Homo sapiens: one gene and its partners. The protein of the gene in region 1 interacts with the protein of each later gene in a pairwise test. Each region holds a gene or a part of one and is shown on either strand. Other genes may lie near its edges. The genes, in order: QKI, CALD1 and PRPF39.

Region 1 (3,658 bases):
GTCTGTCAAGCTGCTAATATACAAGTTGTCATGGTACCATGTAACTTAAATTGATGAATTTCTATGCAATTTACTATTCTCTGAAGCCTATGAATGCAGCCTCATCTCATTTTCAGTTAAGGGTACTTTATGTATAATTATGTCATTGCTGCCTTTTATGTAGGAAATGTAAAAAAGTTTTAAAAGGCGAAAATAACATTACAGATTTCATTTTTATACAGGTTACAATATTAAACATGAAACTACCAAATTCCAAGAATAGTAAAATTCTAGAGTCAGTTGATTGATTGAAACTATTTGACAAAACAGTTGAAAGCTGAGCTTTCAGTCAAGAAGTTGGTGAAATTAATGTCCTTAAACTTTTCCTTTAGGCAAAATGTCAGGGAAAACTTAACATGAAAGTAGTTACTCCCATACGCACCAGTGCAGTAGCTCCAGGTGTAAGAGGTCACGAAGGCACCCTGCCCATAAAACCAGGATGTGCATACGTACACACAATCGGTGTCTGGTTATGGTTTTCTAAACACTACATAAGGATCTGAATTTTTTAGTGTGCCAAAAGCAAACGATAGGTTTAAATGAAATTGCTCACTACCAAATCAAGACTCTTCATATATATACGTGTGTGTATATATATATGTCATAACACTTTCACGTGTGACAGCCTAAGGTTTCTTTAGTTTTAGGATGGGGTGGGGTGGGAGTGGTTTTGCATGTTTGACCAGGATGTGATGCCTGTCTTTATTCCTTGATAAGAAGTAGCTGTTACAGCATTTCAAGCAAATTATTTTAGGTAGAATAGAACTTACTGCCAAATGATTATTTATTTAGCAAAAATTATTCTCCAACTTTTCGAATTCACAATTTTTCTAAGTGCATAGAGTAGTTTTTTACATTGTCACGAATTCCTTAATACCTTTATTTAAAATGGAAAAAATATGGACAATATTTTAGAAATATGTGCTACACATCTAATTTTATCTGTAGTTTAAGTGATCTAAATTGAGATGCCTTTGATATGAAGAGATTTACCAACATTATATGCACTCGTGCCTTCAATGTGGAATCAAACTGGTTAACCTCAGCACAGTCCTCTCGTTTCTGTGTTTCTGCTGCACTAATTGCCAGGGGGTGGGGGAGAAGGCGAATGAATTAATTCATAGTAGAAGGAGGCGATAGGTGCAGCAAAGGGCAGCCACAGTGTTGATTCCACATTATAATGTTGTTGCCTCTTCTTGGCAAAAGACACCACATTGTGGGAAGATCTCAGCTTCCAGGGTAAAAGTTAATTTATAACTTAAAAGTGCTATTAAGTTTTTATTACCAAATATATCTTTTATGGTTTATATTGTAGTGGTATGTATGAAACATTTAAAATTTTACTGTGGAAATTGTGTATATATATATATATAGTCGAAATAGGTGTTCACAGGTCACATGTGAACGGAGAACTGCATGACCGTACATGAAATGCAATAAACCAACTGGAAAAAGTGCATGTGCTTCATCCTCTCAAGCCAACTGCAGCTGGAAAGTGCTGCTTATCCTCCACCCCCAGAAAATGCATGTATCAATATGAGAATAAAGAACGCACACTTTCAATTTTATTGAGGCTTTCAACACTATTTAAAAGAAAATGTAAGAATTTGACATTCTGGAGTTATTATAACATTAGAAAATGAGCATAACATTCACTCTGATTTTAGCCATTAAGGGAGATTAGTAAACAGACTGCTACAGTGTTCCATAGTTGGACTGTGCATCCAAAACATTTTTTTATCTTTAATAAATGGTACAGTTTTTATGTAGTTTTCGAATGTAAGAAGAAAGGAATGCTGACCAAAACTTGATTTCATCAGCTTCATGAAAAGGACTAGTGTCATTAACCTGTTGAACAGAATTGGTTTATTAAAAAAATCATTTCCAGTAGTGTGAAACCTTTACGAGTCTTTAACATCTAAATGTTATGACTCCTTGTACCTTAAGTTTTCCAGTCTTTCTTATTTATATCATCTCCAAGTACCTCTGGCTCCTTTCCTCTTGCTCACCGGAACCTTAGTTTTCCTCAACAGAATGCTTTGTTAAAGTAGCCCACAGTTGCAGGATCCATAGCACCGTCGTGCAGACTAGCAGCCCAAAGGTGTGTTTGGTTTGGCTTATACGGTGTTTTGCTTTTTAAACTACTTGCCATAATTTAAAAGTGGCAACACTAGACTTAAAAAAAAAAAAGTCTGATTGCCCATATTAGATTTTTTTTTTAATTCTTCACAAAATCTGCTCTTCCTGAAAGATCAAAGTGTCTAGAAAGCCCAAACATGTATTCTTAACATAGTAGGCACCAGCTGAAACTGAGTAATTAAACGGTCCCCTGAAGCCAAGTATTCCCTGGTTAGTCGCCACCCCACCACTCCTTCCTGTCTCTAGTGTCACACTTGGGCTGTTGATTTTCTTACTCTTCTCTTGCTTTAATCCTTCCCCCCGGCTCTCTGGCTCCTGTGGATATCTGTGCTTGTTTCCTGGTCCAGGATGGTGATCTGACTTTCAAACCAGCTTCTCAAAAGGGGTGACATAAAATCAGTTTTGATGTTTTTCCTCCTGAAAAATCAGATGAATATTTTAGTCACTGTTACTCATGCACATTGTGTTCTTATGTTTACAGAAGTGCTTAAGTGAATGGAAGCACTAGACATTTGGATTTCCTTCCTAACGTAATTTTTAATGATTACCCCTTTTATACAGTAATTTGTGGTCTTTAGAAAGCAGTTAAACTAATTGACCATCTAATAGTTGTACTATACATATGTCTAAAATAATAGTCATGGTAAGTTTGGCATCATATCTTCCCCAAAAAATGTTTATTAAAATTAGATTATTCCAGTTTAATGCTATTTTGTGAACTGTATACCCTCTGAAAGCGCTTATTTTTACATGCTACACAACAGTTCCAATTTTAAGGAGTGTCTCCTAAAATTGGGATGAAAATCTACTGTAGTCTGTTTTAAAGTATGCTATACTATGTTCATTGGTTACTTAACTGGATATTAATATAAAGGTTATTACAAGAAAAATGATGAAGAGCAAAAGGAGAAGAAAATATTTGCAAGTGAATCCACAATTCTTGCAGAACTATTTGAGTTGATACTAAAGATTTTATGTTCACTCCTTTACCTTAGAACTGTCAAGCTTGGGAATGAGGAAAGTGCCTTGGCTGTGCTTGAAACCTGAATTTTAGTGCTTCCCTTATTACATTCATTGTTTTCAATGATTGATTTATAAAATTAAGACATACTGGTAGTACAAGTTGAAAGTTGGTTTGAATACATTTTAATTAAATGATAATATGTTAATATGCTTTTGTTCATTGCTTTCTCACTGAGGTAAAACAGCATTAAAAAGTTGTCCAGAATTTAAACTGACTCTAGATTTCTAGATTCCTAGGTGGCGGGAAAATGTAAAACTTTAAAGCTCATGAGCGGAACGCAATGCAAGTCCTGAAACTAAGAGTTAAATGTGAGTCTCAGGGAAAAAAGCTAGATTAGCAAATCAAACATACATATGCCTCATCCAGAACATCATTCAGGCATCAGTTCGGGGGCTACTAGCAGTAAAGTTGGTTTTAAATGAAATAAAGTGGAAAAGTTTGATATCACTTCCAGAA
Region 2 (3,658 bases), on another chromosome or scaffold:
TAGAAAGTGCAAAATGGTTTTTTGATTTTTTATTTTTGAAGGTAGAAATTAAAAGATTTTTTCCGATTATAGAAAAAAATACTCATTATAAAAACGCTCAGAAAATAGAAGAATAAAAATAAGCACCCACCACCCAAAGATAACTAGCAGTAACACTTTTTCCAGATATTTATCTATGTATATAATATTCAAGATAAATGCACACACGTGTGTATATTTATATGTAGTATATACGTGTGTGAGTATACTTATAATTTTACATTGATTCTTGCACTGTGCATAAGAATGTGTCATAGCTTGCTTTCTATGCCAATAAATATAAGCCTATAATTAATGATATTAGATTCTACTGGATGGATGTATTAGGACTTATTTAGCCAGTCCCTAATGACGGACATTTTGATTGTCCAAAATGAAGACTGAGTGACACCTAGTGGAATCCATAGATGTTTCTATAGGCATGTGTTTTGCCGGTCCAGTTCCTGTACAGTAATATGATGAACACAAAGAGAGAGCAAACTCATTTTTGGAAGGAAAGACCCTAAATTGACTGAGAGAGGAGTCACAGGCCTGTGAACCTAGAAGACCCTGAAAGAGCCTTTGACAGCAAGGTTTTGAGGGACCCTTTAACCTTGTTTGAGTTCAAAATAAAAGTTTACCTGTAACTGGCATGAGCCTAGACCAATAGTTCTAAATTTTTTAACCTAAGCCCTTAGTAAGAAATAAATTTTACATAATGACCCAGTACACACCTGTATATATTTTTATAACTGAAACAAGTGTGTCAAGAAATGGTACTTTGTTTTGCTCTATGCAGTGCACTCTGATATTTTCTGTTTTTTTTTTTTTTAAATGTTGATTACAATCTACTAAATTGATTTTCTGGTCTGCAGCTTGAAAATTATTGTTCTGGAGGACACAGGATATTCAGAACTACTTCAGTGTTTAAAAAGCATGATATATAATATACATATATATATTATAAAATCAATATTGCACAGTGTATTTCTTGAGCCCATTTCTTGTTTTATTCTTCCTCTTGTTTCACAGCTAGAAACACTGTACCATTCTTTACATGTAGTAAATGATGTTAGGGTGTGATAATTCCTTTGTTCCTTAGACAAAAGTGTCAGGAATAGGATATCTACGTTGACATCTAGTTAAGAATGACCTTACTACTTGCTAATAAGTATTTAAATGGCAAAGCTGTATCTCTGTCTCTTAAAGACTACTTATAACAAGGGCTTCAAGCCTAAATTAAGCCACTAAATTCTGCTTAGTGAAGTCCCAGGCAAATCCAACTTAGGTGAACTCTGTGTTAGTGAAAACTCTGCATTCTACTGAAGTTCTACTTTGAGTATCGACATGTTTTAAAATTATCAGTGTTCTAACTGTATCATACAGTAAATTTATTAAAGAAACTCAGGGGTCACAGTAGGTGCTAATGATATGTCTTCATCTTTTTATAGTTGTGTAAAATACTAAAAATACCAGTTCCAAAATAAAATTTTACCATAAGGACTCTTGGGATAGCATTCTGTCTGAAGTCTTAATATGTTCCCAATTCTGCAATGAAATCCCTGTGTATCCTCCTTAATCACAAAAGAAAATTCAACATAATTTCAATTTTAGTTCTTACTTACATAAAAACGTACCCATTTCTTCCTGTTTTATAAGCTGTTCTACCTGATGAAGCTTCTGCTTCATCTCAGGCACGGAAGGTAGCTAGACCTAGACTGTAGAAACTCTAGAGACAGAGGTAGGAAACGCTTCTCTCAGACTCTATCCTGAAGGTTTGAGGTAAGAGGTGGAGAGATGGAATAACATGTTCTATTTCAGTTTATTCATTGTTTCATAACAAAACGTATTTAATTTCAGGTATAATTATAGTTACAAGAAGAGTACAACTAATAGATAAGCATTAGAATCTGATCATGGCTCGACTGCTTTCTAGCTTCCAAAAGTTTGAGTATATTATTCTCTGTCTTACCTGTGGTTTCCTTGTTTGTAAGATGGGGATAATAAACCTAACCTGACATCTTCCCAGTTATTGTGACTGTTAAATGAAGTAGTGGATATGAAAAGGGTTTAGAGAGCATAAAGAATGACATGTAAGTAATAACCTTAACCACATCATACCAAGCTAATTTCATAATTTTAAGTCTGTATAAGGAGTATTCCAGTTGTATTGGGGTCAAAGAGCATAGAAAATTCACAAATTGAAGCCATAGGTTAATGCAGTCATTAAGGACTTTCCTGGAGCAGCTCTGTAAGAATAGACATAAATCACTGTGTTTAGCTCTTAATCAAGAGGCAATGGGTAATTTCGTCTGCCAGAGATCAGCTGCTAGAGTCAAGCTCAAGGCACAGTTGTGGACAGATGGATTTACTTCAATGCCTACCCTTAGTTACAGCCACTTTTTCCCATTCCCAGCGCCTGAACCTTTCTGTCTTCCCTCCTGATCCATTACTCCAGGCAGACCCAAGTTAACCAGTAACTTACGGGAAAGGACTAGTAAGGCCACTACAAGACTTTTGAACTCATTCACAAGTAACCTTTTGGACTACATGCCTCCCTTTCTAATAACAACTAATATTTATACTGTAGATGATATAGAAATTATAGTATATCAGTATGATATCAGTATGATATCATACTGATATAATACATAAGCCCATGCAACCCACTGAGGTAAATAGAATAAATAGTATTTACCCATTTTTCCATGTTGTAGCATGTATCTTCTTAAAAATTGTGGTAAAAACAAACATCACCTAAAATTTACCATCTTAAGCATTTTTAAAAGTACAGTTAAGTAGTGTGAGGCATATTCATATTGTTGTGCAACAGATCTCCAAAACTCTTTTCATCTTGCAAGACTGAAAGACTACACCCATTAAACAGCAACTCTTTATTTCCTGCTACCGCCCACCCTCTGCCTCTGGTAACTACAGTTCTATTTCTGTCTCTATGAATTTGACTACTTTAGATCCCTCATATAAGTGGAATCACACAATATTTGTATGATTTCCGTGATTGGCTTATTTCACTTAGCATAGTATCTTCAAGGTTTATCCATGTTGTAACAGGTAACAAGATCTCCTTCCTTTTTTTTTTTTTTCTCTTTTTTTCTTACAGACAGAGTCTCGCTTTGTTGCCCAGGCTGGAGTGCAGTGGCACAATCTCGGCTCACTGCAACCCCTGCCTCCTGGGCTCAAGCAATTCTCCTGCCTCAGCCTCCAGAGTAGCTGGGACCACAGGCACACGCCGCCACGCCCGGCTAATTTTTTTTTTTTTGTATTTTAGTAGAGACAGGGTTTCACTGTGTTGCCCAGGCTGTCTTAAACTCCTGAGCTCAGGCAATCCGCCCGCCTCGGCCTCCCAAAGTGCTAGGATTACAGGCGTGAGCCACTGCACCCGGCCTCTCCTTCCTTTTTAAGGCTGAATAATATTCCATGGTATGGCTAGACCACCTTTTATTTATCCATTCCTGCTATGATGGACACTTGGGTTGCGTCCATCTCTTGGTCCTTGTAAATAATGCTGCTATGAACACGGGTATACAAATGTCTCTTCAAGACCTTGCTTTCCATTCTTTTAGAAGTGTATCAGAAGTGGGATTGCTGGATCACGTGGTAGTTCTCTTGTTGATTTTTT
Region 3 (3,658 bases), on another chromosome or scaffold:
GTAAATAGCGTTGCCTGTGAGTTGGTCAGAAGGATAGAGGAGGAGGCGTGTGTTAAAAAAGATATTCTAAGTGGTATACAGTAATAATGGAAATATTTTTATTGTGCTTGTGCATTAGGCTTGTACCATTGGATGTACCCTGCACATTATCTCTGAGATAATGTCTAATTTAAATCCTTCTTTAGCATGAGGACTTTGTGATCTGGTCTAACATCCAGGTCCAATCCCTGGTGGTTCCTGAGCTCTAGACACACCTAAGTCTGATAACTTCCCAAAGGGCAGTGTTGTTTTATATCTTTATGACTGTAATACCTTTTCCTCTTTCCACTTGTCTAGTGGACTTATATTCCCTGAGACCACACAGTTTTGTGTCTTCTCTGTGAAATTTTCTCTGGTTCTCCTATACTGAGATACCTAGTCTGTTATTTGTGCCATGACTTTACCTACATTTATTTACATTTATATTAGCACCAGTAACACTGCTTTGAATTTATGTCTCTTATATCCTCAACATGCCTGTCAGTTTCTGAGGCTTAATTCTTTGTATCTCTAATATTTAGGAATAGAGCTCAATATATATTAGGCAGTCAGCCAGTCTTTACTGAATAAATGTTAGCTTTATAATACAAAAAACTGCTGAAAAAATACTGCTTAATATTATGCACATTTTGTCACTGTTTTAAAGAAGTTGTTACATGATGTAGCAATAAGTCATTTTAGATTTATGTACTGTATGTAGTTATTTTGAAATTTTACCTTAAGTTTTTAATTCATTTGTTGACCATTCTGAGTTTTAATATTCATCTGTAATTAAATCTGTTTTTTCATACTACATATTTGAGAGTTACTTCCTTATTTTTAATTTTTTAACATAAGGCAATCTTTGTTAATTTTTTTCCACCTGGTGCTGAAATGGGCCGTTAGCCTCTGTATCCATTGACTTTGCAAAATTTAAATTAGATTCCAATGTTATTTATATACTTTTTTTTTTTTTTTTTTTGAGGTGAAATCTCGCTCTGTTGCCCAGGCTGGATTGCAGTGGTGCAGTCTTGGCTCACTGCAGCCTCCACCTCCCAGGTTCAAGTGATTCTCCTGCCTCAGCCTCCCGAGTAGCTGGGATTACAGGTGCCCGCCCCGACACGGAGCTAATTTTTGTATTTTTGGTACAGATGGGTTTCAGCGTGTTTGCCAGGCTGGTCTCAAACTCCTGACCTCAGGTGATCCGCCCACCTCAGCCTCCCAAAGTGCTGGGATTACAGGCGTCAGCAGGCGCCTGACCTGTTTGCTTACTTTTTAGTAACATTTCTGATAGTAGTATAGAGGTGGGAATGGGAGTTGTGAGACTAGAGGCTGCAAGGTCATTTTATGTTTATCCAGCTTAAAAGTCCCGAGGTGATGAACATGTATTTAAAAGGTACAGTCAGTAGGACCTGGTATCTAATGTAAATGAAAAGCTAGGTGGAAGAGATTGAGAGATGTAGTGGTTGACAGTACCATTAATCAATATTAGAAATGCTGAGGGTGGCGGGGCACGGTGGCTCACACCTGTAATCCCAGCACTTTGGGAGGCTGAGGCGGGTGGATCACCTGAGGTCAGGAGTTCGAGACCAGGCTGCCAACAAGGTGAAACCCCGTCTCTACTAAAATTAGAAAAATTAGCTGGGCGTGGTGGTGCGCACCTGTAATCCCAGCTACTTGGGAGGCTGAGGCAGGAGAATTGCTTGAACCCGGGAGGTGGAGCTTGCAGTGAGCCAAGATAGAACGATTGCACTCTAGCCTGGGCAACAGAGCAGGACTCCATCTCACACAAGAAAATAAAGAAAGAAATACTGAGGGTATTCATTTTCAGATGAAGATGCCATACTTATTTTAAAATATTTCATATTTGAGGTTCCAAAGGTATATTCAAATTGTGATAGTGTAGATATTTTAGCTCCTCAACCTGGTATTTTTGATTACAATTTGTATGTATACAAATTATTGCATGTTTTTATAAAATAGTGAAATGATATTTTTTTCAAAAATCTTTTTATAGATTAGCTTAAAACTAATCCACATTTCTTTGTGCAGAGTATTGGCAGTTGTATATGCTAATGTGATTAGGAGAAAGGTTTGGACTTGTGTTGTAGTTTTGAGAGTCATCATGGTATACTTATTTCAAGCTGTATGAATGAGATTGGCCAGAAGTATGTATTAATAAAAATAGATGAGAACCAAATGGAGAGTGGAATACTTGGGTATAGTAGCATTTAGGGCAGGTAAGAAGGGGAATAAGACATAGAGCAGCAGTCAGAGGCTTGGAGGACCATACTACAAAACAAGTGTCCATTTAATTTTATATATGAGGTAATTGATAATCTTAATTGGGCAGTTTCATTGGATTTTTGCGTACTCACATGTGGATGAGGAGTATTTGGGAGGTGGGAAGGAAATGCTATATTTGTTGGTTATTTACAAGTGATCATTTAGAATTTAAATATGGATTACAGTATTTAATTTTACTGTAACTTTTATGTCTTTGTAGTAAAATAGATTCTATGACACACGAATAGGTATTATCATCTTATTTTACAATTGAGGAAACTAAGATTTAGAGAAAAGAAAACCTTCCCTAGTCAGATAACCAGTAACAGACAGAACTGAGGTTTGAATTTATGCCCGTCCATGCCTTCTCCATTCCACTGTAAAGGTAGGAAGAAATTGAAGATGTCTATAGACTGTTTTATCATATGGTAGTGTTTTATCATATATGGTAGGATTTTACTATAGAAAAGAAGGAGAAAAGGTATGATATTTTGGTTTCTTTTTTAAATCAAATCCTTTGAAAGAGTAGTATATAGTAGGAATCTCAATATGAGATCTAAAATTATGATTCAAATACATATATTTTTATTGTCTTCCTTTAGATTTAAAGAACATGTACAGAATAATTTGCCTAGAGATCTTTTAACTGGTGAACAGTTTATTCAGTTGCGAAGGGAATTAGCTTCTGTAAATGGTCATAGTGGTGATGATGGTCCTCCTGGTGATGATCTACCATCGGGAATTGAAGACATAACCGATCCTGCAAAGGTAACCAGTCTTATTCTAAAGTTCGTCAGTGGCCAGGTATGGTGGCTTATGCCTGTAATCGCAGCACTTTGGGAGGCCAAGGTAGGCGGGTCACCTGAGGTCCGGAGTTTGAGACCCATGTAGGCAACATGGTGAAACCCTGTCTATACTAAACATACAAAAATTAGCCAGGTGTGGTGGCACATGACTGTAGTCCCATCTACTTGGGAGGCTGAGGTGGGAAGATTGCTTGAACCTGGAAGGCGGAGGTTGCAGTGAGCTAAGATGGCACCACTGCACTCCAGCCTGGGCCAAAGAGCAAGACTCCATCTCGGGGGGAAAAAAAGGTCTTTAGTGCAGAAGAAACTGGACCTGTTATCCCTTGACTCCATGAGTGGCACAGTGATCACTTATATAACTGGCCATTTACCCAGTGACTTGTAGCTTGTTTGAAGTTAATTTCTGATTAAGGCAAGTGGGGATTCAGTAGCTTGTATGTATAGATTTAAGGTAGAGAATCTATTTTACTACAAGACACCCCAAAAAAAACTTAGCTTAGAAGGAATATTTTGCCTAGGTTGTGTATCTACTAGCCCAATTTAAGAAA

The links.
Region 2: the proteins of QKI (region 1) and CALD1 interact in a two-hybrid assay, tested with the Homo sapiens proteins (one large-scale study listed by BioGRID).
Region 3: the proteins of QKI (region 1) and PRPF39 interact in a two-hybrid assay, tested with the Homo sapiens proteins (one large-scale study listed by BioGRID).

Annotation. Positions count from the first base shown.
Region 1 is NC_000006.12:163,575,181-163,578,838, forward strand, and holds the end of QKI (KH domain-containing RNA-binding protein QKI), read left to right. Parts: 3' UTR 1-3,412; downstream 3,413-3,658. UniProt on the Homo sapiens protein: RNA reader protein, which recognizes and binds specific RNAs, thereby regulating RNA metabolic processes, such as pre-mRNA splicing, circular RNA (circRNA) formation, mRNA export, mRNA stability and/or translation.
Region 2 is NC_000007.14:134,943,563-134,947,220, forward strand, and holds part of CALD1 (caldesmon), read left to right. Parts: intron 1-3,658. UniProt on the Homo sapiens protein: Actin- and myosin-binding protein implicated in the regulation of actomyosin interactions in smooth muscle and nonmuscle cells (could act as a bridge between myosin and actin filaments).
Region 3 is NC_000014.9:45,104,545-45,108,202, forward strand, and holds part of PRPF39 (pre-mRNA-processing factor 39), read left to right. Parts: intron 1-2,906; coding exon 2,907-3,072; intron 3,073-3,658. UniProt on the Homo sapiens protein: Involved in pre-mRNA splicing.